Regions from separate parts of the Homo sapiens genome. Here all the other regions are linked to region 2. The links come from fine-mapping of genetic effects on gene expression. A gene starts in region 2. Each other region holds a variant in brackets. All regions are shown on one strand. Distances are from middle to middle. Region 1 overlaps SEZ6L2 (seizure related 6 homolog like 2). Region 2 holds the start of CD2BP2 (CD2 cytoplasmic tail binding protein 2). Region 3 has its middle 36 kb from the start of CD2BP2.

Evidence for each region. PIP is the estimated chance that this variant, and not a neighbour inherited with it, causes the effect. A credible set is the group of variants that fine-mapping cannot tell apart.
Region 1: its variant is the best candidate, but not a certain one, in a credible set for the expression of CD2BP2 in whole blood (TOPMed, PIP 0.63).
Region 3: its variant is the best candidate, but not a certain one, in a credible set for the expression of CD2BP2 in whole blood (INTERVAL, PIP 0.68).

What each region holds. Positions count from the first base shown.
Region 1 is chr16:29,880,911-29,891,592 of GRCh38, reverse strand. It overlaps SEZ6L2 (seizure related 6 homolog like 2), which reads left to right. Exons shown (of 18, transcript NM_001243332.2): 6 at 2,868-3,053; 7 at 3,776-3,944; 8 at 5,844-6,007. Among named protein-coding and RNA genes, the nearest start is that of SEZ6L2, 13 kb to the left of the region's middle. The variant T/C (reference allele first, on the strand shown) is at 5,741.
Region 2 is chr16:30,350,537-30,361,218 of GRCh38, reverse strand. CD2BP2 (CD2 cytoplasmic tail binding protein 2) reads left to right here and starts at 5,911. Exons shown (of 7, transcript NM_006110.3): 1 at 5,911-6,007; 2 at 6,512-6,615; 3 at 6,897-7,035; 4 at 7,161-7,318; 5 at 7,419-7,851; 6 at 7,932-8,038; 7 at 8,124-10,446. The coding sequence starts at 6,538. The coding sequence ends at 8,234. TBC1D10B (TBC1 domain family member 10B) reads left to right here. Exons shown (of 9, transcript NM_015527.4): 5 at 1,378-1,492; 6 at 1,616-1,681; 7 at 1,858-2,047; 8 at 2,402-2,556; 9 at 2,646-4,117. The coding sequence ends at 3,275. It overlaps CD2BP2-DT (CD2BP2 divergent transcript), which reads right to left and starts at 5,785. Exons shown (of 2, transcript NR_184233.1): 1 at 5,599-5,785; 2 at 892-4,926. RefSeq lists enhancers at 5,740-5,799, 5,880-5,939, 4,994-5,945, 5,677-5,971, 5,662-6,861 and 1 more.
Region 3 is chr16:30,313,918-30,324,599 of GRCh38, reverse strand. It overlaps the pseudogene SMG1P5. Among named protein-coding and RNA genes, the nearest start is that of CD2BP2, 36 kb to the left of the region's middle. The variant T/C (reference allele first, on the strand shown) is at 5,108.

The DNA of each region.
Region 1 (10,682 bases), 470 kb after region 2:
CTCAGCTCCCTGCAACCTCCGCCCCCTTGGTTCAAGCGATTCTCCTGTCTCAGCCTCCTGAGTAGCTGGGATTATAGGCGTGTGCCACCATGCCCAGCTAATTTTTTGTATTTTTATTAGAGACAGGGTTTCACCATATTGGCCAGGCTGGTCTGGAACTCCTGACCTCATAGACTAGCCTTTTAGGACACAAAATAAATAAGGCTTGGGCCAGTGTAGACAGTGGTTAGGCCAGGTATGGTGGCTCACGCCTGTAATCCCAGCACTTTGGGAGGCCAAGGTAGGTGGATCACCTGAGGTCAGGAGTTCAAGACCAGCCTGGCCAACATAGTGAAACACTGTCTGTACTGAAAATACCAGCACAGTGGTTCACGCCTGTAATCACAGCACTTTGGGAGGCCGAGGCGGGCAGATCACGAGGTCAGGAGTTCGAGACCAGCCTGACCAACATGGTGAAACACCGTCTCTACTAAAAATACAGAAATTAGCTGGGCATGGTGGCACATGCCTGTAATCCCAGCTACTCAGGAGGCTGAGGCCGGAGAATTGCTTGAACCTGGGAGACGGAGGTTGCAGTGAGCCAAGATCGTGTCACTGCACTCCAGCCTGGGTGACAGAGCAATACTCCGTCTCAAAAAATAATAATAATAAAATAAATAATAATAAAAATACCAAAATTAGCCAGGAGTCGTGGCACACGCCTATAATCCCAGCTACTTGGGAGGCTGAGGGAGGAGAATTACTTGAACCCGGGAGGTAAAAGTTGCAATGAGCTGAGATCAAGCCACTGCACTCCAGACTGGGTGACAGAGTGAGACCCTCTCAAAAAAAAAAAAAAAAAAAAAAAAAGACAATGGTTAATGTGATGACAAAATCATGCATGCAGGACTGTGTACAGGTAAGAGAACAAGTAACTGTTGGAGAGATGTAGAGTCAGGAAGGCTTCCTGGAAGAGGTGGTACATAAGCCCCCCAGTCTGATCTCTTAAAAGATGAGAAAGTAGGGGGAGAGCACAAGCGAAAATATGGAGGTGGAAAATTAAGGAGTCACAAAACTGTGTTGTGTAGGCTATATCGGTCTTGGGAGATCAACCCTGAACCTGGAATGTGCTGGGCTGCATTTAACTATGGAAGGGGCTTGAATGTCAAACTAAAGCATTCAGACTTGATTCTGTTGGGCATGGGCAGCCATTCCCAAAGCTACCATTTATTGAAACCACTTTGTTCTAGAAGGTTGTTCTTATGTTCATCTCAGTAGACAATGGACTCCTGAGGACAAGGCCTGGGTCTTTTTCCTGACCTCAGGTGATCCGCCCGCCTCAGCCTCCCAAAGTGCCAGGATTACAGGCGTGAGCCACTGTGCCTTTAAAGACTATTTTGTCTTTAAAGATCTTAATACTCAGTGGCCTGTAAATGAATCCCCCAGTGAAAGTGAAGTCAGGAGGTCTGAAGAGATCAGGAGTTCGAGACCACCCTGGCCAACATGGTAAAATCCCATCTCTACTAAAAATACAAAAATTAGCTAGGCATGGTCGCACACACCTGTAATCCCAGCTACTTGGGAGGCTGAGGCAGGAGAACCGCTTGAACCCGGGAGACGGAGGTTGCAGTGAGCCGAGATTGCGCCAATGCACTCCAGCCTGGGCAACAGAGTGAGACTTCTCCTCAAAAACAAAAACAAAAACAAAAAGACAAAATAGTCAAATTTCCTCAACAAGTTTCATGTTTGCTTGAGGCCAGGAGTTCAAGACCAGCCTGGGCAACATACTGAGATGTCATCTCTACAAAAAATTTAAAAATTAGCGGGGCATGGTGGCACAAACCTGTAGTCCCAGCTACTTGGGAGGCTGGGTCAGGAGGATTGCTTGAGGCCAGGAGTTCAAGGTTCCAGTGAGCTATGATCACACCACTGCACTCCAGCCTGGGCAACACAGTGAGACCCTATCTCAAAAAAAAAAAAAAAAAAAAAAAAAAAAAAAGAAGTTTCAAGTGGTTCTTCTGGATGGAAGCTGAGGAGCTGAGGGTATACCACAGGGCACCTTGGTGGAAGAAAGGCTGTGTGTGTGGAGGGAAGAAAAATCAAAAGAGACATTTAATAACTTGGAGCCTCAGTGTTCACACCTGCAAAACAGGTCACATAATCTTTTTTTTTTTGAGACAGAGTTTTGCTCTTGTCGCCCAGGCTGGAGTGCAATGGGACGATCTCGGCTCACTGCAACCTCTGCCTCCTGGGTTCAAGTGATTCTCCTGCCTCAGCCTACCAAGTAGCTGGGATTACAGGCACCCACCACCACGCCTGGCTAATTTTCGTATTTTTTAGAGACGGGGTTTTACCATGTTGGCCAGGCTGGTCTCGAACTCCTGACTTCGTGATCCACCTGCCTCGGCCTCCAAAAGTGCTGGGATTACAGGCGTGAGCCAGCATGCCTAGCCAGGTCACATAATCTTTGTCTGCTGACCTCAAAATCTCTGTGTGGACTCACTTTGGGAGCTGAACAAGCTCTGCAAATACTGTTATTACAGCTGGATGAAGTTCAGAGTAGTTCATTGATTTGCCTGAAGTCACACAACAAATGAGTAGCGGGGTCCAGAATAACTTGTTTGAACCTCAGATACCTCATCTATAAAATGGGGGCCAACGAGGGTGAATTACAATGAGTGGGGGAGATAAGGGGTGTTGGAGTTTCCTGTTCGCGAGGCAAGGTGCCTGTGTGAGGAGCTCTTATTTCTCGGTATGTACGCCAGTATGGAGCCAGTGTGTGCCCCTGGAAGGTTGGCCTGAAAGGAGAGGGGGGAAGTGCTGGGGGATCAGTATGAGAGGGTGGCATGGGAAAGTGAGCCCTGCTACCCGCTGTCTGTCTGGTGCAGCCTACCTCCTGAGCTGTGGCTTCCCTCCCCGGCCGGCCCATGGGGACGTGAGTGTGACGGACCTGCACCCTGGGGGCACTGCCACCTTTCACTGTGATTCGGGCTACCAGCTGCAGGGAGAGGAGACCCTCATCTGCCTCAATGGCACCCGGCCATCCTGGAACGGTGAAACCCCCAGCTGCATGGGTGAGTCTCCTGCCACAGTGGGTGGGGCATCTGTTCTGGGAACCCCATTGGGAGGGTCCTATCTCGGGGGTGTCCAGGTGTCCACCTTTGGGGAAAACCCATTCTGAAGGGGTGTTTACCCTGAGGAGTCCCCATCCTGGGGTCTGCAGCCAGAGCTCTTTGTGCGGAGGGTCTCTCTCCTTGGGGTTTCTCCATCCTTGGGTGGTCTCCATCTCGGGGTGTCCCACTGGAGATTTTATTTTGGGAGTCACCATTCTGGAGGTCCCTTCTGGGGTAGCGTCCTCATCCTAGAGGAAGCCATTTTTAGGGTTCATGTCCAGAGGGCTTCTATCCTAGAGAGCCTCTTACTGGGATTCCCATCCCGTGGTGTCTTCACTCTGAAAGTCCTGTCCTGAAGATTTCCCAGCTGAGGCTTTGAATTTTAGGGATCCTTGTAACTCCCCATCCTAGAGTATCCGCAGTTGGAGAGTCTTCATTTTAGTGGTGTCTCCATCCTAGGAGGTGTCAATCCTGGGGTTCTCCCGTACCGGGGCTGGTTTCTTTCCTGGCTCATGCCTGGAGAAGGTCCCATCCTCTGGAGTGACTCCATGGGACAGAGGCCAGCCCTGGGCCGGGTCCCAGCCAAATGTGTGAATGCAACAGTTCTGAAAACGGGCCGAGGCCCCGAGGAGAAGGACAGTTCACCTCAGGCTGGCCTTAACGTACCCCTCCTCTGCCCACAGCATCCTGTGGTGGCACCATCCACAATGCCACCCTGGGCCGCATCGTGTCCCCAGAGCCTGGGGGAGCCGTAGGGCCCAACCTCACCTGCCGTTGGGTCATTGAAGCAGCTGAGGGGCGCCGGCTGCACCTGCACTTTGAAAGGGTCTCGCTGGATGAGGACAATGACCGGTAAGGGTCTGGGTCTTGGGTCAGAAGTCCCCACCTTGGCCGGGCATGGTGGCTCATGCCTGTAATCCCAGTACTTTGGGAGGCCGAAGCAGGCGGATCACAAGGTCAGGAGATCGAGTCCATCCTGGCTAACACGGTGAAACCCCATCTCTACTAAAAATACAAAAAAAAAAAAAAAAAATTAGCCGGGCATGGTGGTGGGCACCTGTAGTCCCAGCTACTCGGGAGGCTGAGGCAGGAGAATGGCGTGAACCCGGGAGGCAGAGCTTGCAGTGAGCCAAGATCGCACCACTGCACTCCATCCTGGGAGACAGAATGAGACTCCGTCTCAAAAAAAAAAAAAGAAGTCCCCACCTCAGGGAAGTAGGGAGGCTAAGTGGGGACTTGGACACAGCTGGGGTGGATCCTGGTTGAGATATGCATCACAGCTTAGTCCTAAGCCTTTTTTTTTTTTTTTTTCTTTTTTTGAGACAGAGTTTCACTCTTGTTGCCCAGGCTGGAGTGCAGTGCCGCAGTCTTGGCTTACCGCAACCTCTGCCTCCCGGGTTCAAGTGATTCTCCTGCCTCAGCCTCCTGATTAGTTGGGATTACAGGCATGCACCACCATGCCCAGCTAATTTTGCATTTTTAGTAGAGATGGAGTTTCTCCATGTTGGTCAGGCTGGTCTCAAACTCCCAACCTCAGGTGATCTGCCCACCTTGGCCTCCCAAAGTGCTGGAATTATAGGCGTGAGCCACCACACCCAGCCAGTCCTAAGACTTTCTTAGGAAGTGTAGCTGTGAAACCTTAGACAAATCACTTAACTTCTTTGTGCCTCAGTTTCCTCATCTGTAGAATGGAGATAACAATACTTCCCTCTTCAGGTTTCTGTGAGGATAAGTGCTGAAATTATATAAAGTCCTTAGAATGGCACCTGGGACAATAAGCACTATAAAAGTGTCTGCTATCCTCTTTTTTTTTTTTTTTTAAGATGGAGTCTCACCCTGTCGCCCAGGCTGGAGTGCAGTGGTGCGATCTCGGCTCACTACAACCTCTGTCTCCCAGGCTCAAGCTATTCTCCTGCCTTAGCCTCCCGAGTAGCTGGGACTACAAGCGTGTGCCACCACGTCCGGCTAATTTTTTGTACTTTTTTTTTTAGTAGAGTTGGGGTTTCACCGTGTTAGCCAGGATGGTCTCGATCTCCTGACCTCGTGATCCACCCACCTCAGCCTCCCAAAGTGCTAGGATTACAGGCATGAACCACTGCACCTGGCCTTATTTATCTATTTATTTATTTTTGGAGACAGACTTTCGCTCTGTCACCCAGGCTGGAGTGCAGTGGCACGGATTCAGCTCACTGCAACCTCCACCTCCCAGATGCAAGCAATTCTCCTGCCTCAGCCTCCTGAGTAGCTGGGATTATAGGCATGCACCACCATGCCTGGCTAATTTTTGTATTTTTAGTAAACATGGGGTTTTACCATGTTGGCCAGCCTGGTCTTGAACTCCTTGACTTCAGGTGATCCACCCGTCTTGGCTTCCCAAAGTGCTGGGATGACAGGTGTGAGCTGAGCCACCATGCCTGGTCAAGCATCTGCTATCTTCATCATCATTATCATCCTTTACCTAGCAACTTGGTATCTCAGCCCTGCCACTACTTGCTCTGTGACCTTGGACAGGTTACTTGATCTTTCTATGCCCTAATATCCTCATCTATAAAATAAAGGATAATAATAGTGTCTGACTCAAGAGTTCTTGTGAAAATTAAATGAGATAGAATGTGTAAGGGCTTAGAAGAGTGCGTGGCATATAGTTA[T/C]GTGTGATGATAACAGCTATAAAAATAAGTTAGGAAAGCAGGCAAGGGGTGAGGCAGCTTGTGAGGGAGATTGAGCTCCTGGTCACGTTTCTGTCCATCCCAGGCTGATGGTGCGCTCAGGGGGCAGCCCCCTATCCCCCGTGATCTATGATTCGGACATGGACGATGTCCCCGAGCGGGGTCTCATCAGTGACGCCCAGTCCCTCTACGTGGAGCTGCTGTCAGAGACACCTGCCAATCCCCTGCTGTTAAGCCTTCGATTTGAAGGTAAGTGACCCACTCCCCCACAGGACCCCAACCGCCACACCTTCCCCTCTTCCTGACACCAAGCATAGTCGGAAGCACAAACTCTATGCCTGTTCATCTCCGTGCTGGGTTCCTTGAAACGTGACTCGCTTCCCTGCCCCAAAACTGCAAGGATCTCTTCTAGGGACCCCTTCTCCTTCCCCCAGGCAGCCTTCTCTGTTTAAGCTTCATGAATGTCTGGATCCAGGTACATAGCCCAGAGACCAGTTATCTCAGTATCTCGGTTCTTTCCTCTGTGCTGGCTTCATCCTTAGGCACTTTCCCTGTGTGATGGACATAGCTGCCGACTTACATACCACCAACTTAATTTTTATTTTATTTATTTATTTATTTATTTTTTGAGACGAGTCTCGCTCTGTCACCCAGGCTGGAATGCAGTGGCGCCATCTTGGCTCACTGCAAGCTCCGCCTTCCGGGTTCACGCCATTCTCCTGCCTCAGCCTCCCGAGTAGCTGGGGCTACAGGCACCCGCCACCGCGCCCGACTAATTTTTTTGTATTTTTAGTAGAGACGGGGTTTCACCGTGTTAGCCAAGATGGACTCGATCTCCTGACCTTGTGATCCGCCTGCCTCGGCCGCCCAAAGTGCTGGGATTACAGGAGTGAGCCACCGCGCCCGGCCTTTATTTATTTTGAGACGGAGTTTTGCTCTTGTTGCCCAGGCTGGGGTGCAATGTCATGATCTCGGCTCACCGCAACCTCTGCCTCCCGGGTTCAAGCGATTTTCCTGCCTCAGCCTCCCGAGTAGCTGGGATTACAGGCATGCGCCACCATGCCCAGCTAATTTTGTATTTTTAGTAAAAATGGGGTTTCTCCACGTTGGTCAGGCTGGTCTGGAACTCCCGAACTCAGGTGATCTGCCCGCCTCCGCCTCCCAAAGTGTTGGGATTACAGGCGTGAGCCACTGCGCCTGACAGTTTTTAGTTTTTATTTATTTTTATTTATTTATTTATTTTGAGACAGAGTTCCTCTCTGTCGCCCAGGCTGGAGTGCAGTGGCGCGATCTCAGCTCACTGCAGCCCCCCTCCTCCAGGTTCAAGCGATTCTCATTCCTTAGCCTCCCGAGTAGCTGGGATTACAGGCATGCATCACCACGCCCAGCTAATTTTTGGGTTTTTAGTAGAGACGGGGTTTCACCATGTTGCCCAGGCTGGTCTTGAACTCCTGGGCTCAAGTGATTCGCCCATGTGGGACTCCCAAAGTGCCAGGATTACAGGTGTAAGCCACCTCCTCCAGCCCATACCACCAACCGAGTAACCTCATCAGAGAGAACACTCATATATTTCCTGAGAGCTCAGCAAAAATGCCAGGAGAGGCGTTCATTGACCTGACTAAGATCCTGGTTGGCCTTAGCCTGAGCCAATCACTGAGCTAGGAGAAGGGAGTATTGGGATTGGCTAATCTGCCTCACGTGGCCTTCCCTGGTGGGCTCCAACTTAACCTAGTGGACTGGGAGTGGGGAAGGCCTGCGTCCCAAAATTAAAATTGGGATGCCGTTACCAGAAGAAGAGGAATGAATGTGAAGGGGTAGAAACAAGGAAGTGATCATGGAGGAAGAGGCATTTCACCTTGGCCTTAAAGGATAGAGGGTATTTTATTATTATTATTATTATTATTGAAATAGGTCTTGCTTTGTCGCCCAGGCCGTAGTGCGGTGGCCCGATCATGGTTCACTGCAACCTCAACCTCCTGGGCTCAAGTGATCCTCCTGCCTCAGCCTCCCTAGTAGCTGGGACCACAAGCGTTCGGCACCATGCCTGGGTAATTTTTACATTTTTTGTAGAGACAGCATCTCACTATGTTGCCCAGGCTGGTCTCCAACTACTGAGCTGAAGTGATCCTCCCACCTCGGCCTCTCAAAGTGCTAGGATTACAGGCGTGAGCCACCCTGCCCAGCCAACAGAGGATATTTTAAAAGAGGAAGATTGAGGCCAGTTGTGGTGACTCGTGTCTCTAATCCCAGTACTTTGGGAGGCCAAGGTGGGATGATTGTTTGAGGCCAGGAGTTTGAGAACCAGTCTGAGCAACATAGTGAGATCCTGTGTCTACAAATTAAAAAAAAGTAATAATTATCCAGGTGTGGTGGCACACACCTCTAGTCCCAGCTACATGGAAGGTTGAGGTGGGAGGATCACTTGAACCCCACTTGAACCCCAGAGGTTGCAGTGAGCTATGATTGCACCACTGTGCTCCAGCCTGGGCAACAGAGCAAGACCCTGTCAAAAAAAAAGAAGAAAAGAAAAGAAAAGGAAAGAGAGGAACTTTGAGAAACAGCAAGTAGGGAAATGCCTGGTATGTCTGGGAAACAGAATTTCATTGTGGCTGAAACAGAGGAGTTGTATAAACAGTAGCAAGAGAGAGACCAAAAAGATGAAATGCTTAGAGATAGGAGGGTCTAGTGTTTGATATGAATCATGGGAGAAATGGAATTGGCACTCGGCTGTGATGGATGGGTAGGATTTGGACATGATACCTTGCAGGTTAAGTAACAGTGAAATAGAACAGTGGATCTGCAAAAATGAATTGCGGGATAGATTCTGGGAGTGTTAAAGTGCAAACAGCACAGATCTTTTACCGAAAATAGCAAGTTGTGAGTCCTGACTCCAGAGTTGTAGGCCACTGCTATTCTATGAGTTTAAGATTCTTCACTGTGGCCAGGCACAATGGCTAACGCCTGTAATCCCAGCACTTTGGGAGGTTAAGATGGGAGGATCACTTGAGCCTGGGAGTTGGAGACCAGCCTGGGCAACATAGCAAGACCTTTGTCTCTACAAAACAAAACAAAACAAAAAATTAGCCAGGTGTGGTGGTGCACACTTGTGGTCCCAGCTGCTTGGGAGGCTGAGGCAGGAGGATCGCTTGAGCTCAGGAGGTCAAGGCTGCTGTGAGTTGTGATCCCACCATTGCACGCTCCAGCCTAGGTGACAGAGCAAGGCCCTGTCTCATTTTTTTCCTTTTTTTTTTTTTTTTGAGATGGAGTTTCGCTCTTGTCACCCAGGCTGGAGTGCAATGGCGCAATCTCGGCTCACTGCAACCTCCGCCTTCCGGGTTCAAGTGGTTCTCCTGCCTCAGCCTTCTGAGTAGCTGGGATTACAGGCATGTACCACCACGCCCAGCTAATTTTTGTGTTTTTAGTAGAGACGGAGTTTCACCATGGTGGTCAGGCTGGTCTCAAACTCCTGACCTCAGGTGATTCACCTGCCTCAGCCTCCCAAAGTGGGGGGATTACAGGTGTGAGCCACTGCATCTGGCCTCATTTTTAAAAATAAATAAAATAACCCGGGCACAGTGGCTCATGCCTGTAATCTCCGCATTTTGGGAGGCTGAGGCAGGTGGATCACTTGAGCCCAGGAGTTTGAAACCAGCCTAGGCAACATGGCAAAGCCCCATTTCTACTAAAAACACAGAAATTAGCCAGGTGTGGTAGTACGTGCCTGTAATCCCAGCTACTCAGGAGGCTGAGACATGAGAATGGCTTGAACCTGGGAAGCCGAGTTTGCAGTGAAGTGAGATCATGCCACTGCACTCCAGCCTGGGCGACAGAGCGAGACTCAGTCTCAAAAAATAAAAAAATAAAATATTAAAATAAAATTAAAAATCTCAAAAAAAAAAAAAAAAGGCCGGGTATGGTGGCTCACGCCTATAATCCCAGCACTTTGGGAGGCTGAGGCGGGTGGATCACCTGAGGTCAGGTGTTCGAGACCAGCCTGGCCAACATGGTAAAACCCCATCTCTACTAAAAAAATACAAAAATTAGCCGGGGGTGGTTGTGGGTGCCTGTAATCCCAGCTACTCGGGAGGCTGAGGCAGGAGAATCACTTGAACCTGGGAGGCAGAGGTTGCAGTGAGCCGAGATCACACCATTGCACTCCAGCCTGGGCAACAAGAGCGAAACTCCATCCCAAAAAAAAAAAAAAAAAAAAAAAAGAATTCCTCATTGGTATCATAGGCACCTAAATCTTAACTTACAGGGAGTTTTGCAGCTAAGATCCGATCAGGTGGGCAGAAACTCAAATGCTCTACAAATGTTCACTTTTGCTGACTTGAAGTAAAAACTGAGTAGTTTTTGCATTAGCTGAAATTTTGGGTTTCAGCAACAGCATGGATGATCAGAATCCAACTGTTATTTCTGAGGAGACAATACACCTACACCAGCCAGTTCTCTGAAGGCACCCCTCCCCTTACCCGCTATCTCTGCTGTTTCCAGAGCCAAGTATCTGTGGCTGGGAATCAAACCATCTGGGTTTGAGACCTGCTTTTGCCATTGTCTTTTGTGTGACCTTGAGCAAGTGGCTTTTTGGTCTATGGACCTCCGCTCTGTAGAATGGTGGCTGGGATTTGGCTAGCTCAGTGGCTTCCCTCCAGAGGCCAGGGAGGCAATATAAATATGTGAATGAGGAGTGTTAGAACTTTTTTTGACAGTCTGGAGAGTGAATGCTAAACCCAGTGGCATTCAGTTTTTAAAAACCCACCAACGCCAGGGCAATGGCTCATACCTGTAATCCCAGCACTTTGGGAGGCCGAGGCCAGCGGATCACCTGAGGTCAGGAGTTCGAGACCAGCCTAAGTAACATGGTGAAACTCCATCTCTACAGAAAAAAAAAAAAAATCAGAAAATGAGCTGCTGGGTGGGGTGT
Region 2 (10,682 bases):
CAGATTCCCAGATTCAAGTGATTCTCCCACCTCAGCCTCCCAAGTACCTGGGATCACAGGTGCCCGCCACCACACCTGGCTAATTTTTGTATTTTTGGTAGAGACGGGGTTTTGCCATGTTGGCCAGGCTGGTCTCGAACTCCTGACCTCAGGTGATCCACCCACCTTGGCCTCCCAAAGTGCTAGGATTACAGGCGCGAGCTACTGCGCCTGGTGAAGAGACTTTTTTTTTTTTTAAACTCAAATAACAGCATGTGGGTATGCTTGTGGGAACGGTGGAGAGAGAAATTGATAGTGCAGGAGCAAGGGGAGGGTTGTTGGAGTGGTGGCCTGTACACGCGAGAGGGGATGGGATCCTGGGCCCAAGTGGAAAGGAAGTGCTTGCCAGGATCACAGACTCTTCACCCATAGCAACAGGGAGAAGGCAGGGACACGGAAGCAGGCAGGTGGGTGATGGGTGTGGGTGCTTGTGGAAGTTACATATTTATTTTAATATGCATTAGGTAAAATAACCATATCAAACCTGTCATTTCGTGGATGCTTTTGCAAAGTGGAGAAAAAATGTCAACTAAATAGTAGGGTGGTATGCAGATAAAATACAAATGAAGATCACACTTGAATGCCTGGAGTTTTGGGAAAAGCTATTCTGGGAAGTGGTCAGGAGGAGGATGTGTGAGACTGGAGGCAGGGAGAGGATCTGGGAGGTCATTTTTTATGGGCAAGAAATGGAGGTCTGAGCTGCGAATGGCTGTGGAGGTGGAGAGGAGCAGGCAGGAATGGAATTCAGGGTGCAGCGCTGCTTAGGCTTGGAGTAAGGGGCTCTTTTCTGATGTGGGGCTGAGTGAATAGAAGTCCTGGACACGGCAGTGGGGCACCCTCAAGAAGAGCAGATCTAGGGTACAGATTTTATTCTTTTGGATGCAGAGACAGGAGAAAGGGCTGAGGCACAGCTGGCTTCCAAGCCTTCCCCAAGAACCATGAAATCCAGTGAGACCGATAAGGCAGGCCCTGCCCTGGGGAGCTACTGCTTTGGGGTGACAAAGACATTTAGTGCTAGAGGAGGGCTGATGCTGCAGCTGTGGAAAGCTTCCTGGAGAAAATGACCTGGAAGGTTTCTGGGATGTGGCTGAGGAAGGAGGGCGAGGGTGCAGCCTGTGCTGGGATGGCCAGGAGCATGTGGAGTATGTAGCCAAAGGCGGAGCCCCGGGGCCTGGAGTGCTCTGCTGTGGGCTGAGCCTTTAGCTGAAGCTCGCTCAGCAGGACTGGGCAGGTGGATGGAGGAGCCTGGTGATAAACTCTGGGACGAATCTGGAACTGGGTTTGGGGACAGAGCTCTCAGCCCGTGACTGCCCTCACAGTCTTCCCCAACCCCCACAGGCAACAGGACCTGTACCGAATCCTGAAGGCCTACACCATCTACCGGCCTGACGAGGGTTACTGCCAGGCCCAGGCCCCCGTGGCTGCGGTCCTGCTCATGCACATGCCTGCGGAGGTCAGCGCCCTGGTCCTGGGCCGGGAGGGGCAGGGGGGATCTCACCCTACAGTGGTGATGGGGGAGCTCCCTGCTCCCTGCTTCTCAGGCCCCACCCCTCCTCCTTGTTCTTGCTCTTCTCAGCAAGCCTTTTGGTGCCTGGTGCAGATCTGCGACAAGTACCTCCCAGGTTACTACAGTGCAGGGCTGGTGAGTGTCTGGAGGCTGGGTGCATCCGGGGCTGTGGCGTTTCCTCCAGGCTGCAGGCAGGTCCTTGCCTTGCCCCACCCTGGCCTTCCCGGCTTCTGCCCACAGGGCCGGCCAGTTCTCCCCTGATGGGGGCACAGCTGACTTGGCCCTCTTCTCATGGCTTGTCCCACCTGCAGGAGGCCATTCAGCTGGACGGGGAGATCTTTTTTGCACTCCTGCGCCGGGCCTCCCCGCTGGCGCATCGCCACCTGCGGCGGCAGCGCATTGACCCTGTGCTCTACATGACGGAGTGGTTCATGTGCATCTTCGCCCGCACCCTGCCCTGGGCGTCGGTGCTGCGTGTCTGGGACATGTTTTTCTGTGAAGGTACTTCTGTGGCCCTCCAGGCCATGAGGGGCTGGGGTTTCTGTGGTGGCTACCAGGGGTTCTGTCATATTTCTGGTGGTCCATGGACAAAAGGTACTTGTTGGGTGGAGGTTTCACCATAAGCAGCTGGGGGCTGGAGAAACAGGCCTGATTTTAGTTCTGCCACCAACCCAGAGCCTGCTCTCCCTGCCAAGATCCTGAGACTGATAGCAGCTCATGTACTTTCACAGGGCCTCAGTTTCCTCATCTGAGATTGGCAGTAGATGGGGATGGGGGCTGTGAGTCTATCCTGATCAGGACAGGCTGAGATCTTGGGTCTGACCACCCCATGCTCTCTACTCTCCACCCCTGCAGGCGTTAAGATCATCTTCCGGGTGGCCCTGGTCCTGCTGCGCCACACGCTGGGCTCAGTGGAGAAGCTGCGCTCCTGCCAAGGCATGTATGAGACCATGGAGCAGCTGCGTAACCTGCCCCAGCAGTGCATGCAGGAAGACTTCCTGGTGCATGAGGTAGGCCTGTGCCCTCAACGCAGCCCCTGCCTGCCTCAGCCCGCTCCCACCCTCAGCTCCATTCTGGTACGCATTTCCTCTCTGTGCAGGTGACCAATCTGCCGGTGACAGAAGCACTGATTGAGCGGGAGAATGCAGCCCAGCTCAAGAAGTGGCGGGAAACGCGGGGGGAGCTGCAGTATCGGCCCTCACGGCGACTGCATGGGTCCCGGGCCATCCACGAGGAGCGCCGGCGGCAACAGCCACCCCTGGGCCCCTCCTCCAGCCTCCTCAGCCTCCCTGGCCTCAAGAGCCGAGGCTCCCGGGCAGCTGGAGGGGCCCCGTCCCCGCCGCCCCCCGTCCGCAGAGCCAGTGCTGGGCCTGCCCCAGGGCCTGTGGTCACTGCTGAGGGACTGCATCCATCCCTTCCCTCACCCACTGGCAATAGCACCCCCTTGGGTTCCAGCAAGGAGACCCGGAAGCAGGAGAAGGAGCGGCAGAAACAGGAGAAGGAGCGGCAGAAACAGGAGAAGGAGCGGGAGAAGGAGCGGCAGAAGCAGGAGAAAGAGCGAGAGAAGCAGGAAAAGGAGCGAGAGAAGCAGGAGAAGGAGCGGCAGAAGCAGGAGAAGAAGGCTCAAGGCCGGAAGCTTTCGCTGCGTCGAAAGGCAGATGGGCCCCCAGGCCCCCATGATGGTGGGGACAGGCCCTCAGCCGAGGCCCGGCAGGACGCTTACTTCTGACCTCTGCCCTGGGGCTGGACTGCATGGCCCCCCTCTTTCCCTCAGCCAAGAACAGGCCTGGCCCAAGGTGCCACCCCCTAGCACCTTGTCAGGCTGTCCCTTGCTGGGGAAAGTGGCTTGGTTCCCCATCTCCTCGCCAGCTGCTGATCCCTACACGGGCAGGACAGATGGGCAGCTGCAAATGAGTCTGGAGCCTCTCATCTCCCATGAGGCTCAGCTGGGGTCTCTGTCGCTCCTGCCCCAGTTCCCTCTGGGTCCCCTCCTAGGTGCTGTCCTGAATGGCCCGTTGTCATCCCAGGGGTGACTCCTGGTGATGGGAGTCAGCAGTTTCAGATTCTTACACTCCATAGCTCCCCTTACCATGAGGTGGAGCTGGCTTCCTTTTCCCTGTCTTCAGCCCTCCCTGTCTCCCCCACTTCCTGGCCAGGGCTCTCATTCTGGACCTGTGTTGTAATTGTGTACAGAGGATGGCGTTGGCCTGGGGTGGGGGTGCTCGCTTTGTCTTCTGTCCTTTGGTTCTCCTTCCATAATGCTCCTGTACCCAGTTTATTTAAGGGGACATGCACTGGAATAGGAAATGTCCCCCATCTCCCTTCCTGCACCCTGCTGTGCTCCCTCCAAACCCACCTTGCTCTGTGTTCTCAGGCCCCCCTGCTTTTGTCTCACCAGGACCCATACCTTTCACCTTGTTCCCTTCCACCCCTCCAGTTAGTCCCTATCTGGGTAAGGGTCTTCCCTTGAGCTCCAGGGGGTGGAACCCAATGTTTACATTCTCTTCTGTCTCTGCCCCCACCCCATGCAGCGCTTTGAGGAATTGGAAAAGAACCTGCTGTTGTACCTGGGCCTGTTTTCTGCCTTGTTATTTGATGAGGGGGGGATGGGGTAAGGACGAGGGAGGGAGGGACAGAGCCAGGACCTGGGTCTCTGTTGAAGCAGTCTGCTGTCTTGGCAAGTAGGTACCTCTTAGCTTTGGGTCCATCTCTCAGTCACTCATCAGACACTGGTTGAGCTCCTGCTCCATCTTTGCCTGGGATCTGCTGTCTCCATTGTCACTGGCTGCCTGGAGCTCTCTATGTACCACGTGCAGCACCCGGATCTCCTTCCCAAAGTGCTCATGCAACTCCTGGAAGCTGGAGGGGGTACTCACAGTGGCTAGAAAGCCACTGTCCTCTGGGGATGAGATGGGTTCTTGGCCAGTTGCCTGGCACAGCTCCCAGTATTGGGTTTTGGTGGGGGGGGAGGGGGGACAGCAGCCCAGCCAGCCGCCTCCAGCTCGCGCCAGCCAGTGCCCACAGCCAAGTCTCCAGCTCTTCCTGGGTTTCTGCAGCCAGCTTGTAGGCCCGCCCACCTGTGCCCTCCACCCCAGGGGTCAGGATGGTAAAGGCATAGGGTTCTGCAGCCTTAAGGTGTGGTTCCACCTGGCAGTTCTCTAACAGGATGAGGCTCAGGGGTGCATGGTCGGTCTAGTGTTCTAGGTAGAAGAGGAGGTTTCCTCGGAGGATGAACCATCGGCGCTGGTAGCTGAGGTTTCGGGTCCCCTTCTTTAGCAGAATGCCTTCCTGGTCTGGGGCCTGTGTTCTGTAACCATGGAAGAAACTGAGCACGGACTTTCTGTGCAGTTTTCATCGTGATCCAATATGGGAGGAAACCCCTAGGGAGAGAGAAGTGGCCCATCTAGTTGCCTGGGGGAAGAGTAGGGGAACTCTCATGCTGTCCTCGTCTGGCTTCAGCACGTGCTGCCTGCGCACAGTCTTGGCTTAGGGGGATGCAGGCTCCGAGTGTCAAGAGCTAGGGGTCCCAGCACAGGGGCTGATCCCCGCTACCTCCCCAATTCCCCCTTCTGCTTGGGCCACATTCCGCTACCTGGGCAGGAGTTGCTAGGCCCTGTTTGCTCAGGGGGGCTTCATGCTGCAGAGAGGCACTGTTGCCCTTTTCCAGGCCTACCTGAGAGCAGGGCACAAGGGGCTTCTGGCCTGAGTACTGGCGCCAATGCCACCTCTCCAGTGATGGCTCTCCCACCTCAGAAACCAGGAACTCGCCCAGGGTATGGGCGTGGGACAAATTATTTCCCCTGGGTCCTAAAGGGAGGTGTGTTCAGAAAGTGCCCGGAGAGCCGTCCAGGGGCCCCAGGCTGGCCATCGGGAGAGTCAGGCTTCCCCTCGGAGAGGCAAGGCTGCACCTCTCAGGCTAGGAGGGCTGACCACTGGACCATAGGAATGGGAAGGCAGGATTTCTAACGAGACGGTAGGGGCGCTGAGCCCTTAGCCCTGGGGGAAGGGTGACTTGAACCCAGGACAGGAAAACGGAGCAGCAACCCACTGACCCTGCTCGGACTTTGCCCCTCCATCCTGACCCTGGGCGGCCCTTTAAGCAGATGCGCTCCAGTTTTTCTCCAGAGCCTCTACTGCTTGAATGACGGACTCGAAGCTACTTCCGGCCATTTCTCACGCCCAGTCAGAGTCCAGGAATTCTTAGGTTCCCTCTTCTCACCATTGTCCTCCCACGTGACTGACGTCACTTCTGGCGGGAGAGAGGGTGGAGGCGTCTTCGCTCGCTTATCGCATACTTCCGCCCGCTCTTCCAGTTAGTTCCCTAACCCGAGTGAAGCCACTTCCGGGCTTCCCGGGCGCCTTCCGCAGTCCTCTTCCGGGTGATGGCGGCCGGGTGCCCCGGATGTAGCCCTGGCGCAAGCATCTCTTCTTTTTTCCACCTCGCCTTCCGCGGATTCCCAGGTGAGTGCGCGAGGGTGGGACCGCCCGAATCCCCGTGGCCCTCTAAGTTGTACACAGCCCGGGACAGTTGGGGCTCACCACACGGAATTGGGAGTTCGGAGCAGGGAGGAACGGGGTGGCGAGAGCGCCAGGTCCTGGGTCTGCCGGGGCCCGGCGAGCTCCGAGAGAGCCAGGGTAGAGAGCGGGGGTCAGCCCGTGGAGCCGGTGGCGCGCAGACTGCGGGGGCTGGAGTTGGGGGCGGTCACGTGGTGAAGCCTGTCTCCTTTCAGCCAGGGTCGGGGGATCCAGAGGGTCCGCTCCTCCGTCCCCGCCCCGTTTAACTCGCGGATGCTAGACCCAAGTCCTGGAGGCCTCCTGGCTGCCAGCTTCCTTTCGGCCCCTGCTTTTGTGCTCCCTCCGCTCCCAAACTGTACCTGTCACAGACCAGGAAAAATGTTTGCTGTGCTGCGTCTGTTGGCGAGTCCCCTCCTCACCCGGTTCCCTTCCTCTGCATCCTTTCCTCAGCTTGAGAAACACCTCTTTGCCCCGTCATGCCAAAGAGGAAAGTGACCTTCCAAGGCGTGGGAGATGAGGAGGATGAGGATGAAATCATTGTCCCCAAGAAGAAGGTGAGGGGGCCAGACTGCTTTGTGTGGGGGAAAGAGGAGCTAGAAGCCTGAAGAGGAAGAAAGCTGGCGGGAGAGGGGCGGGGCGGGCAGGCAGAGAAAAGCCTAGTTTTTTCAGGTTCTCTGAGGAATGGGTTGGGAGCGTCTTTAGTGTGGCTCCTGAAATATTTGGGGAAGTAGTCGAGATCCTGAAATATTTGGGGAATATTTGGGTCCAGATCCGGAAGTATTTGGGGAGGTAGCCAGTAACCTGCATTTCTCAACTTTCTGGCTCCTGCTCACAGCTGGTGGACCCTGTGGCTGGGTCAGGGGGTCCTGGGAGCCGCTTTAAAGGCAAACACTCTTTGGATAGCGATGAGGAGGAGGATGATGATGATGGGGGGTCCAGCAAATATGACATCTTGGCCTCAGAGGATGTAGAAGGTAAGCTGTACCCAAGAATACACTCTGCTGGAAAAACAAGTAGGGGCCTCTGGTGGTGTGGAGCGAGGGAGGCTCCGGTCTCTTTTTTCCATGCCTGGAAAAGGGCACCTGTGTCTTTGGTGCAGGTCAGGAGGCAGCCACACTCCCCAGCGAGGGGGGTGTTCGGATCACACCCTTTAACCTGCAGGAGGAGATGGAGGAAGGCCACTTTGATGCCGATGGCAACTACTTCCTGAACCGGGATGCTCAGATCCGAGACAGCTGGCTGGACAACATTGACTGGGTGCGGCCCAGGGGCTGGCGTGGCTGGGGCCTGGGAGTGGCAGATGCTGGGCCTGCTCCCGTGGCAGTTGGTGGGAAATCACTCCATCTTCCCATTACAGGTGAAGATCCGGGAGCGGCCACCTGGCCAGCGCCAGGCCTCAGACTCGGAGGAGGAGGACAGCTTGGGCCAGACCTCAATGAGTGCCCAAGCCCTCTTGGAGGGACTTTTGGAGCTCCTATTGCCTAGAGAGACAGTGGCTGGGGCACTGAGGCGTCTGGGGGCCCGAGGAGGAGGCAAAGGGAGAAAGGGGCCTGGGCAACCCAGTTCCCCTCAGCGCCTGGACCGGCTCTCCGGGTTGGCCGACCAGATGGTGGCCCGGGGCAACCTTGGTGTGTACCAGGAAACAAGGGAACGGTTGGCTATGCGTCTGAAGGGTTTGGGGTGTCAGACCCTAGGACCCCACAATCCCACACCCCCACCCTCCCTGGACATGTTCGCTGAGGAGTTGGCGGAGGAGGAACTGGAGACCCCAACCCCTACCCAGAGAGGAGGTGAGCTTGGAGGACAGAGGAGGGGGCAGTGGGTAGGAAGTGAGACACTGGAGGCCAAATGGCTTTGCCTGTTATTTTAGAAGCAGAGTCGCGGGGAGATGGTCTGGTGGATGTGATGTGGGAATATAAGTGGGAGAACACGGGGGATGCCGAGCTGTATGGGCCCTTCACCAGCGCCCAGATGCAGGTGAGCTGCTTTCTCCCTCCTCCTGCCTTGTCCCTGCTTCCCCCACTCCTGTCAGTTGTTCCCCAGCTCTGCCCTCTCCTTGCAGACCTGGGTGAGTGAAGGCTACTTCCCGGACGGTGTTTATTGCCGGAAGCTGGACCCCCCTGGTGGTCAGTTCTACAACTCCAAACGCATTGACTTTGACCTCTACACCTGAGCCTGCTGGGGGCCCAGTTTGGTGGGCCCTTCTTTCCTGGACTTTGTGGAGGAGGCACCAAGTGTCTCAGGCAGCGAGGAAATTGGAGGCCATTTTTCAGTCAATTTCCCTTTCCCAATAAAAGCCTTTAGTTGTGTACTGGGGCCTTGGCTGTGCTGATGGCCAGAAGCCAGGGGCCTTCTCCACAGTCCCTTTGGACTTGTCTTGGTCCCTGAGTACTCCCATGAAGATCCTTCTTGGAGGTGCCTGTCAGGTATCCTGTGGCCTCCCTGCCTGGACTCTGCTTGCCGTGTAAACACCCCCAACTGCGCTGCTCTGTGCTCCTCTCCCAGGTTTCTTGTTCGATTCCTCTTAGGTCTTTGGCTTTCAGGACCTCAGATTCTTTATCCTTGTAGCCACCAGAGGACAGAGCCCCAGAAGTGGATGTTTTAGGCCCAGAAGGACCAGGGCATCGAGAAGACATTGGGACCCTGTTGGGGGTGAGCATGGAACCCTCTTACTCTCGCTTCACCCTCTCAAGCTCCTTAGATGCTGGGCAGAAGTGGGATGAGTGGCCCAAGACCGAGATCCCTAAGGTTCTGAGAGCCAGTGTCTTCCCTAATCTGGCTTTCCTCTATCCTTGCCGTCGTTCCCACAGCCCTTCAGTGAAGTGCAAACTCAGTGGCCAAGTGTGGGCCAAGTGTGCATTGTACTGGCACAGAGAGGGGCAGTGACTCACTGGAGATCACAGGAATCAAAGGGCTGGCCCAGACCCAGTGGGCTCCTTTCCCAGACCTTTCTTGGCACAAAGCCTTTGCTGCCTGGCCTTGGAGGCCCTGCGGCCTACATTCTCTGGACCCCACTATGTGCCTGGCACAGGGCTAGTGCCTTGAGGAAACTGAGGTAGCTGGGTTGGTCCCCTTCCAGGAATTCAGAGTCTGGTGGCAGGGGCATGGGAAATAGACAGATGTAATTCTATAGCCTGGGCCTGGCACCCTCCACCTCCACGCCCCACCAGCATTGCCTTACGCCTCCCTTGCCCCACGTTAGATGGTTTCTTCCGGTTTTGCACTCTGGCTGCCCCTTGGAGTCTCCTGGGGAGCTGTAATATCTCTTTGGAGATTCAGATTGAGCTGGTCTAGGTTGTGGCCCAGGCATTGGGCATTTTGGAAGCCCCCAGGTGTTTTCAGCTTGCAGCCAGGCCGAGAGAGAGCCCCTGAGTCAGATCCCCATGGTTTAGGCACACCTAGCGGGAGGGGTGGCTCCTGGACCCCACCGTGGTTGGAGAGCTGAGCATGTGTGTGGCTTTAGTGGGGTCTGTTAGTTATGGGGGTCTGGGCACTGGAGCTGCAGGACACTTGGGATCCCAGGTCAGAAAGGGCCAGATGAGCAACTAGGAAAGACTTGGGGGCCAGGGCGGAGTGGGGTCACCTGACACTCTTGTGAGGCCCCTTCTAGTGCCTGCTCACACCGGAATTTCATTCACTCCAAGAAGCCATCAGGGGTAAGATACCTTCCTTTAAACGTCACTAAGAAAGAAGAGGCCTGCCGGTGACACAGTAAGATGCCATTGATCTAAAGATGCGTCTTGATTTCAGAAAGGTCCGGAAGTGGAAAGCAGGTTTCAGGGCTGCTGAGGTACAGGGTTCTCCTGTAGGCCCCAGGGATGGTCTCAGGGGTGCTGAGTGCGTGCGTGGTAAATGGATGGAGCCCAGGGGCGCCTCCTGCCAGTGTCCTCCAGGCACTCAAACCTAGCCCTTCTGAAGCCGACCTCACGTGACCTCACAGCCCCTCCTGAAGGCGCCTCACTGATGACGGTGGGTGGAATAACAGCCCCCAGAGATGTCCAGGTTTGGAACCCCAGGACGTGGGAAAGTGTTACCTTGCGTGGCAAAAGGGACCCGGCGCCTGTGCTTCAGTTCAGGATTTCGTGGTGGGGAGATGACCGTGGATGGTTGAGGTGGGCCCTGAGTAATCATGGGGGCCCTTATAAGGGAAGGGGAGTCACGAGGGTCTGCGCATGAAGCAAGGAAGCTTCTGGCTGTGAAGATGGCAAGAAGGCCTGGGGCCAGGCGATGAGGTGGCCCCTGGAGGAGCTGGAAAAGGCATTGGATTCTGCCCCAGAGCCTCCGTGGAGAAACAAAGCCGCACTGACAAGACTTCAGCCTGGTGAAAACCATTTTGGACTCCTGACCTCTAGAACTGTAAGATAATAAATTGGTGTGGTTTTCAACCTCTCAGTTTGTGGTAATTTGTTAACAGCCCCAATAGGAAACAACTACTCATGCATCCAGGGGACACCTCATGAACCACCCGATCTCACTAAGTTCTCCCTTCCTGTGACCACATTGCTATTTCAGGTCCCTGTCAGCACTTATAAATGTGGCTGCCTCTTGCTAGGGTGGCCTTTATAGCACATCTGAAACAGCACTCCTTGGCTTTTTGTTTGTTTTGTTTTTAGAGACAGGG
Region 3 (10,682 bases), 37 kb after region 2:
TTCTTTCCTACTAAGTGCATCAATAAATAGCATCCACTCTATATTTGTGTCTTTCCTCAAGTAAATACATGAAAATGAGATCCTGCAAGTTTGTGTTTTTATATTAAGTGTTAACTCCAGAGATTGCAACACTGTTCTTGTAGGATGTTTTTTTGGGGAAAGCATTCCTCTTATGGCAGCCTTGTTGGCCTGAGGCAGGGCTTAAACAAACTGATTGAGCAGGCTCAAAAGGACAGTATCGTAATGGACTGGAGTGGCCAGATCTTTCTACAGAAGAAAGAATACGGTAATTTGGCCACGCGCAGTGGCTCATACCTGTAATCTCAGCACTTTGGGAGGCCGAGGTGGGCGGATCATGAGGTCAAGGGATCAAGACCATCCTGGCCAACATGGTGAAACCCCATCTCGACTAAAAAATATACAAAAATTAGCTGGGCATGGTGGCACACGCCTGTAGTCCCAGCTATTCAGGAGGCTGAGGCAGGAGAATTGCTTGAACTTGGGAGGCGGAGGTTGCAGTGAGTGGAGATGATGCTGTTGCACTCCAGCCTGGGCAGCAAGAGGAAAACCTCTGTCTCAGAAAAAATAAAAAATAAAAGAATATGGTAATTTAAGATTCATATGTTTTATCCATCTTGAAAAATACCTTGTGCACATATTTAAAGTCTTTTTACACATTGATTTATTTTGAGTCTATTGTATCTGTCTACATTATTTAAGCAATGTAATCACTAAAAATTTAAGCACTGGGTTGAGCCTTCTGGCATCCCATTAGAATGCCTGGGGAAACACACTTCTTGCCAATTGCATGCCTGCTGATTGGGGAATGAAACGCAAATATTCCAGAATCAACAGATTTCTTTATTTTATTTTATTTGTCACCCAGGCTGGAGTGCAGTGGTGAGATCTTGGCTCACTGCAAACTCTGCCGCCCGGGTTCAAGTGATTCTCCTACCTCAGCCTCCTGAGTAGCTGGGATTACAGGCGACTGCCACCACGCCTGGCTAATTTTTGTAGTTTTTAGTAGAGATGGGGTTTCACCATCTTGGCCAGGCTGGTCTTGAACTCCTGACCTTAGGTGAGGAGGAAATGCCATTTTGTAAATCCCAAAGTGCTGGGATAACAGGTGTGAGCTACCATACCTGGCCTAGAATCAACAGATTTCTGAACATACTGAATTACTTCTTTCATATTAATTTTCAGACCTTTTCAAAAAAGGATTTGGATACCCTGTTGATATTCATATTCATATTATTATGTTGGCATTCATATAATATGTGTAGGACTTTATAGTTATTTAAAAACCTGTTATAGACTTTTTTGTTTATTATTTAAAACTTTTTTCAGAGGGACTTGTTGCTTTTTTTTTTTTTTTTTGAGATGGAGTTTTGCTCTTGTTGCCCAGGCTGGAGTGCAAGGGCACGATCTAGGCTCACGCAACCTCTACCTCCTGGGTTCAAGTGATTCTCCTGCCTTGGCCTCCTGAGTAGCTGGGATTACAGGCATGTGCCACTCGCCTGGCTAATTTTTTGTATTTTTAGTAGAGACAGGGTTTCACCCTGTTAGCCAGGATGTTCTTCATCTTCGGACCTCAGGTGATCCCCCCTGCCTTGGCTTCCCAAAGTGCTGGGATTACAGGTGTAAGCCACCTCGCCCAGCCTCAGAGGGATTTCTGGTACCAGAATTATAGATTGTTTTTGTTACCGAACTTCCTAAGTTATGCTCGTTCTTTGTTTATTAAGGGGAGACACTAGATTTTTTTTATCACGCTTTTTATCATCATAGAGAACTTTAGTAGTCTACAAGAATATTGTTAGAGGCTTAGCAGTGGCCTCACTGCACATACATGTATATGTCTTTGGGAACCTACAGGTTTTTAAGAAGTCGTTAAACTTAATATTTACTAGATATTTGTTTTTGGATGGCATCTAATATATTAATAGCCCAGAAAAAAGGCGCCACTAATGAATATGTCTTGGATTACATAGTGACATATATTAGCTTTTCGTCCACATTTGATAACATTGCTAATATTTTTTTTTTTTTTACTGAAGCTCTTTGAATTTAAAGTTTTCTCTCATTTAAATTTATTAATTGAAAACATACCTTTACTCTGTTCCCTTTAGCATTTCAACCTGATGTTAAAAGATGTGTATGTGTGATATGTGTGTTTGAAATTTTAACTTTCATCTTGGAGTATTTAATTCTCTGAAGCAGTGCATGACTCTTGCTCTTCAGCCTCTTGAGAGTGTCCCTGGTTTATATTCCTGATGATACAAACCCTGGAATTTCTTGTCTGAAGTGTTAACACTTTATTTCCAGGTCCTAATTTGATTTGAATAGTGGAAGTTCAGATTCAATGCATTAATGACAGATTCTATGTTGACTTCTTCAGATTTGCCAGACAGAAAAATCTACTTATGTGAGGAAATCATTAGGCTTTTTGACTATCCTCTTTGTATAATGAGACTCTTTTCTCATTAGATGAGTAAAAAGATCCAGAGATGATCACCAGTATCCCCCAGAATTCATATATATTTAATTGAAAAGAAAGCAAATCCTGGGATTCTTTCCTAAAAAGGTTGATTACATTTCTTGCCTGTCTGTACGTTCTTTGTATAAACGTGAAGAAAAATAAAAATATAGGTTTTCCAGCACTGGGACTATGAAATTTGAGATTTAACATTTATTCATTAGTCAGATTTAAAGGAATCTACCTTAAGTCATAGTTTATATTGTTTTTGAAGGACCTGAGTAAGGATTCTATTAAAAATGATTAATTCTGTCATTATTTGAAATATTGATAGGATTTTAATATGTTCCTTTTTTGAAAATACTAGAATTATAAATTACACTTAATAGCAAATAGGTCGTAAGTATGTGGTAATCAATTTATTGACTAAAAATTTTGTAAAAGATGCCTTTTATTTAAAGTGGCCTATCGTATAGTTACTATAATGCTAGTGCTCTCTACATTTTCATTGTAATCTTACTGAAGAAGTAAAAATTAATCATTGTTCTCCCCACTCTAATATTAATTCAGAAATCATAATTGTACACATAGGGTACAACGTAATGTTTATATATATGTGTGTAATGTAGTATGATTAAATCATGCTAATTAACATACTATCGCCTTACTTTGCTTACTTATATTTTGTGGTGAGGCATTTGAAATTTACTCTTAATTGTTTGAAATACATTATTATTATTGCTATTGTTATCTGTGTCTTCTCTTTGCAAATAAATACATCATTATTTACTATGGCCACCCTGTTGTGCAAAGATTTCAAAAACTCTTCTCCTATGTGAAATTTGTTCCCTTTTCTTTTTCCAAAAAAAAAAAAAAATCCACCTGCTGTCTTAGCATAAAAATAGAACCAGTGTGTTTTAGATTCCTCTCTAAGTGTCTTTATTTTTAAGAATGTATTTTTTTTTTTTTTTTTTGAGACGGCGTCTTGCTCTGTTGCCCAGGCTGGAGTGCAGTTGGCACCATCTTGGCTCACTGCAATCTCCACCTCCCGGGTTCAAGCGATTCTCCTGCCTCAGCCTCCCATGTAGCTGGGATTACAGGTGCATGCCACCACGCCTGGCTAATTTTTGTATTTTTAGTAGAGACGGGTTTCACCGTGTTGACCAGGCTGGTCTCAAACTCCTGACCTCAGGTGATACGTCCGCCTCAGCCTCCCAAAGTTCTGGGATTACAGATGTGAGCCACCGTGCCCAGCTAGAATGTGTGTATTTTAAAAAGTTGATCCTTCACAGATATTTATCTTAGGAGAGGCTGGTGTCATGAAAAAAGCTATGGACTAAGAATGGGAAGACAAAGATCTTCTGTATTGGCACTACCAGCTGTGTCCCTCTGAGGGGGTAATTTTTGCCTTTTGAAGACGTTGGGAGGGTTAAAGTTCAGGAAATTATTTTTAAAACTGTTCCAGTGAATATTTAGAAAAATATTAGTGGAGATAGAATTAATTGCTCTGCAGTGGAGTGGCTCTCTTTCTACATTTTCTTTTTTTCTTTTTTCCTTTTTTTTTTTTTTTTTGAGACGGAGTCTCGCTCTGTCCCCCAGGCTGGAGTGCAATGGTGCGATCTCAGCTCACTGCAACCTCCGCCACCCGGGTTCAAGCGATTATCCTGCCTCAGCCTCCTGAGTAGATGGGATTACAGGCATGTGCCACCGCACCCAGCTAATTTTTTTTTTGTATTTTTAGTAGAGGCGGGGTTTCACCTTGTTGGCCAGGCTGGTCTTGAACTCCTGACCTTGTGATCCATTCACCTCTGTCTCCCAAAGTGCTGGGATTACAGGTGTGAGCCACCGTGCCTGCCCTCTTTCTACACTTTCTAGTATAGTCCCATTAGGCTGTAAACCTATTTCAAGTTGAACGATAAGAAATTTCAGCATAGCTCTGCATCATCATTTTTTCTCCATATCTTGTATTCACACCTTAAGAATTTGTTACTAGTTGAAATGATAAGCCAGCAAACATAATCTAATCTTTGTGACTGTTTGCATAGATTGGAGGGCAAGTACAATGTAAATGGAATGTATATAGAGAAAGGGTAGGTTAAAAGGTAGCTTATAGCTTGCTTACCTTTTACTACACAGTTGGAATTTAAGAACTGATTCTTATAAGAACACCAGTTGAACGATGAGTTGCTTTTTTCCCTCTGGTGTAGTGTGTATGGGTGTGTATATACATATTTTTATTTTAATTTTTTTTTTAATGGGAGGAGGGAGGATGCCAGAAACATTTAGTTGTACTCTGCCAATGTGATAGTTTTAAGTACTTGAGGGGGTGGAGAAGAACCACACGCATCTTCTAAACAAAGATGGGAAATATCATATCATTATAAGAATGTATATACAGTATTAAGCAATTACAAGATTTTGGGCCAGGCATGGTGGTGCTTTGGGAGACCAAGACAGGGAGGTGGGTGGATCACTTGAGCCCAGGAGTTGGAGACCAGCCTGGGTAACATAGTGAGACCTCGTTTCTACAAAAAATAAAAAAATTGGCTGGGCATGGTGACTTACACCTGTAATCCCAGCACTTTGGGAGGCTGAGGCTGTCAGATCACCGAGATCAGGAATTCGAGACCAGCC[T/C]GACCAACCTGGTGAAACTCCGTCTCTACTGAAAATACAAAAATTAGCTGGGCATGGTAGTGCATGCCTGTAATCCCAGCTATTTGGGGGCTGAGGCAGGAGAATTGCTTGAACCCAGGAGGCAGAGGTTGCAGTGAGCCAAGATCACACCACTGCACTCCAGCCTGGGTGACAGAGCAAGACTCTGTCTCAAAAAAAAAAAAAAAAAATAACTGGACATGGTGTCATGAGTTTCTAGTCCCACCTACTTGGGAGGCTGAGGTGGGAGGATTGCTTTAGCCCAGGAGGTCGAGGCTTCTGTGAGCTGTGATTGTGCCACTGTCTCAAAGAAAAAAAAAAAAAGATTCTGGTACTATTTGAAATTGTAGTACTGTAAATCTATAATAAATGATTGCTGTCTCTTAAGGAACTTAGTATCTGGAAACATTGTTTCTTTTTTTCTTGTAAAAGGGAATTATAAAAGTTACTTCTTTTAAATCACTTATGTCAATCTGATTAAAGTGTGTTTAGTATAAAATGTAACAAAAGAAAAAGATAGGGTTTGTATAGACTGTGGGTTTAAAGTGGCTTAAGTGATGATTTTGAAGTTTCCTAGGTGTCTTATACTTAAGGCTAAATACAAAGACCTCAGTAAATTTCTGGCTACTGCTGAGCATGGTGGGAGCATCGTTTCCTGTTCTTACTAGTATGTTTCAGCAGCTAGCAAAAGCTGTCTTCATTTAATACATTTTCCTGCAGTTAAAATAATAGTGTGATTATCTTGAAAGGCGTCTTCCTTTTTCAGTATTTGATTTGTGAGACCATATCTTCTGGAATTACTTGAGACCTCTAATTAAATTGACTTTTAAAATTTTTTATTTCATTTTCTTTTAGAGTTGGAGGTCTTGCTATGTTGTCTGGACTGGCCTAGGATGATGACGATTTTTTTCTTTAGAGACACAGTCTGACTGTGTTGCCCAGGCTGGTCTCAAACTCCTGGGCTCAAGTGATCCTCCTGTTTCAGCCTCTTGAGTAGCTGGGATTACAGGTGTGAGCTACTGCAGCCAGCTTGGCCTAGGATTATTTTTATTTTTATTTATTTTATTTTATTTTTTTCCTGTTTTTGAGATGAAGTTTCGCTCTTGTTGCCCAGGCTGGAGTGCAATGGCGCCATCTCGGCTCACCACAACCTCCACCTCCCAGGTTCAAGTGATTCTCCTGCCTCAGCCTCCCGAGTAGCTGGGATTGCAGGCATGCACCACCACACCTGGCTAATTTTGTAGTTTTAGTAGAGACAGGGTTTCTCCATGTTGGTCAGGCTGATCTTGAACTCTTGACCTGAAGTGATCCACCTGCGTCGGCCTCCTAAAGTGCTGGGATTACAGGTGTGAGCCACCGCGCCTGGCCAGGATTATTTTTAAAGAGAAGATTTAACATATGCAATTGTTAGAAAATCTTATAAACATGTTATTCGCTGGGAATGTGCTTCAACCTGTTGGCTAAAGGAACTTTATCAGAATAACTACAGTTATTATCTGACTATTTTCAGGAGTTGAAAAAAATGGTTGCATACATTTCTTTTTTTTTTTTTTTTGAGGCGGAGTCTCGCTGTGTCACCCAGGTTGGAGTGCAGTGGCGCGATCTCAGCTCACTGCATGCTCCACCTCCCGCGCTCACGCCATTCTCCTGCCTCAGCCTCCCGAGTAGCTGGGACTTCAGGTGCCTGCCACCACGCCCGGCTAATTTTTTTGTAGTTTTAGTAGAGACGGGGTTTCACTGTGTTAGCCAGGATGGTCTCGATCTCCTGACCTTGTGATCCTCCCGCCTCGGCCTCCCAAAGTGCTGGGATTACGGGTGTGAGCCACTGCGCCTGGCCCATTCATTTCTTATATTGGTAAACATGACTTCACCTTTACCTTGATTATAAAGTCCCAGTCTACTTTTGAGATTCTTTAGATTTCTGCAGTGTGTAACTCTTTTTTTTTTTTTTTTAAACGGAGTCTCGCTCTGTCACCTAGGCTGGTGTGCAGTGGTGCAATGTAACTCTTAGTGATTCTTAATCTTGGTTGGAATGTGCTATGTTTGGCCTTTTTTTTTTTTTTTTTGGAGACCGAGTCTCACTCTGTTCTCCAGGCCGGAGTGCAGTGGCGAGCTCTCAGCTCACTGCAACCTCCGCCTCTGGGTAAGCGATTCTCCTGCCTCAGCCTCCTGAGTAGCTGGGATTACAGATGTGCACCACCACGCCTGCCTAATTTTTTTGTATTTTTAGTAGAGACTGGGTTTCACCATGTTGGCCAGGCTGATCTCGAACTCCTGAACTCAGGTAATCTGCTTACCTCGGACTCCCAAACAGCTGGGAGTACAGGTGTGATCAACTGTGCCTGGCCTATGTTTGGCATTTAACTGGTGGGGGAGGGATGCATATCTTTGTACATTTTCAGCCTTTTTTGTCCTTCATCTGTTAAAGAGGTCATAGAGTAAGACATTTCCTTTTAATCTTGGCAATTTCCCAGGCCAAATGATAGGTTTCTAGGGTACTTCCAGGACTTAACTGACAAAAGGGGAAGATAAGCGATGCAATTGAGAGCTGAAGTAGGGTCTCTCTTTTTTTTTTTTTTTTTTTGGAGTCTTGTTCTGTCGCCCAGGTGGGAATGCAGCGGCGTGATCTCGGCTCACTACAACCTCCGGCTTCACTACAACCTCCGGCTCACTACAACCTCTGTCTCCCGGGTTCAAATGATTCTCCTGCCTCAGCCTCCTGAGTAGCTGGGACTACAGGCACCACACCACCAGGCCTGGCTAAGTTTTTGTGTATTTTTAGTAGAGGCAGGGTTTCACCATGTTGGTCAGGCTGGTCTCGAACTCCTGACCTCATGATCCGCCCGCCTTGGCCTCCCAAAGTGCTGGGAGTATAGGCGAGAGCAACTGTGCCCGGCGAAGCAGCATCTCTTTTTAAGGTTGTAAGGTAGCTTGGGTTAGAAATAAAGGCAGAGAGCCACTCCATACCTGTAGTTCTAGCTACTGGGGAGGCTAAGACCAGAGGATCTCTTGAGCCCAGGAGTTCAAGGCTGCAGTGAGCTGTAATCACACACTGCACTACAACGTGGGCAACATAGAGTGAGACCTAATTAAAAAATAAATAAATAAATAAATAAATAAATGCAAGGAGAAAGTCATGAACTTGGTGCATTTAGGTGTACAATTAGTTGGCATAAACAATTTTTTTTTTTTGAGATGGAGTTTCTCTCTTGTTGCCCAGGCTGGAGTGCAGTGGCACAGTCTCGGCTCACTGCAACCTCCGCCTCCTGGGTTCAAGTGATTCTCTTGCCTCAGCCTCCGGAGTAGCTGGGATTACAGGTGCCCGCCACCACGCCCAGCTAATTTTTGTATTTTTAATAGATGGGGTTTCGCCATATTGGCCAGGCTGATCTTGAACTCCTGACCTCAAGTGATCCGTCCGCCTCAGCCTCCCAAAGTGCTGGGATTACAGGCGTGAGCCACTATGCCAGCCAAGAATTTTTAAAAAAGGAGTTTCATTCAGCCCACCTCATTCCTCTGCAGGGCACCTGTGTGCAGGGCAAAACTGCTCAACCCTACTCAGCAGCCCTGTGAAAGCTGCTGAAAGGATGAGCAGATTGAGGCCTGAACTGTATCTTGGATTTAGCAGCCTGGAGGTCATAATGGATTTTGCCAAGAGTGATGGGGCAGAATTTGGACCAGTGTGTGTTAAGGAGCTAGAAGAAGTGAAGAAATGGGAGAGGGGAGTCTAGACAACTTTAGTTTGGCTGCAGCAAGTAAAGGCAGATTGTTCGATGGAGGGACATGTGGGATTGATGGAGTTTTTCCTTTTTATATGTTTTTGCATTTTTCAATGGGATACATTAGAAAGTGTTGCATGTTTATGGGGGGGATTTAGTTCAGTGGGAAAAGTATTTGAAAAGTTACAGTAAGGTAGAAGTAGATGGAATCCTCAGTAAGGTCTAGAATCGGGTGCAGGTATTTTATGGTATCTTCCCCACCCCTCCCCGAGATGGAGTTTCGCTCTTATTATTGCCCAGGCTCTGGAGTGCAGTGGTGCAGTCTTGGCTCGCTGCAACCTCCACCTCCTGGGTTCAAGCGATTCTCCTGCCTCAGTCTCCCGTGGAGCTGAGATTACAGGTGCGCACCACCACACCCAGCTAATTTTTGTATTTTTAGTAGAGATGAGGTTTCACCATTTTGGCCAGGCTGGTGTCCAACTCCTGACATCAAGTGATCCACCCGCCTTGGCCTCCCAAAGTGCAGGGATTACAGGCGTGAGCCACCGTGCCCAGCTGGTACCTTTTTTTTTGTTGGTGAAGTAGAATGTGTGTATGGGGAGGGGAGGTGGATAGGATATTTTGGAATTTGAAGATAATGGGAATGTCTGGATAGTGCATGTATAGAATGGGAAGTAAACACTGGAGGACCTGGGAGTGTGGTGCTTATTGATGGATCGTTGGGTTTATCCAGGATTGGGGTTTTGCCAGATGGCTGTGATGAAAATCTTAAGAGTTAAGGGTATAGGCAAGAGTGTTGTTGAAATGACACACAATGAAATCTAAGCTGGTTAAAGAAGTGAAGAAGGGGCCGGGCACGTTGGCTCACGCCTGTAATTCCAGCACTTTGGGAGGCCGAGGCGGGTGGGATCCCTTGAGGTCAGGAGTTCGAGACCAGCCTGGCCAACATGGTGAAACCCCGTCTCTACTAAAAATACAAAAATTAGCCGGGTGTGGTAGCAGGGGCCTGTAATCTCAGCTACTTGGGAGGCTGAGGCAGGAGAATCGCTTGAACCTGGAGGTGGAGGTTGCAGTGAGCCAGTATTGCACCACTATACTCCAGCCTGGGCAACAAAGTCAGAGTCTGTCTCAAAAAAAAAAAAAAAAAAAAAAAAAAGTGAAGAAGGAGGAGAATACTTGGATTGGGATAAAGTAGAAAGAGTCACTGGAATTAAAGTTAACTAAAAAACTCATAAACTTTAGAATGGTACTGAGAAATTGTAAGGTGAACTGAAAAAGGCTCATGGGATTTTAGAGCCAAGAAGTCCTTGAGTGGCAGTTCCTACCTTAGTAGGAATAGCTTCAGTGGTGTGTTGCAGGTGGAACCCAGATTAAAGTGCGTTAAAAAGTAAATGAAGGCAAGGAAGATACATTTTTCAACAGGTTTGTCTGTGAAGAGTCCAGGCTATTAGATTGATAGAGGGAGAAAGGCAGTTAAAGGGTTTTTTTGTTTTTTGTTTTTTTTTTTGAGTCAGAGTCTCACACTGTTGCCTGGTCTGGAGTGCAATGGCGCGACCTCGGCTCACTGCAACCTCCGCCTCCGGGGTTCAAGTAGTTCTCCTGCCTCAGCCTCCCAACTAGCTGGGATTACAGGCGCCCACCACCACACCTGGCTAATTTTTTGTATTTTTAGTAGAGATGGGGTTTCACTATGTTGCCCAGGCTGGTCTCAAACTCCTGACCTCATGATCTGCCTGCCTCACCCTCCCAAAGTGCTGGGATTACAGGCGTGAGCCACCGTGCCCGGCCTTATTTTCTTAATTTTTAAATTTATTTTATTATTATTATTATTTTTGAGA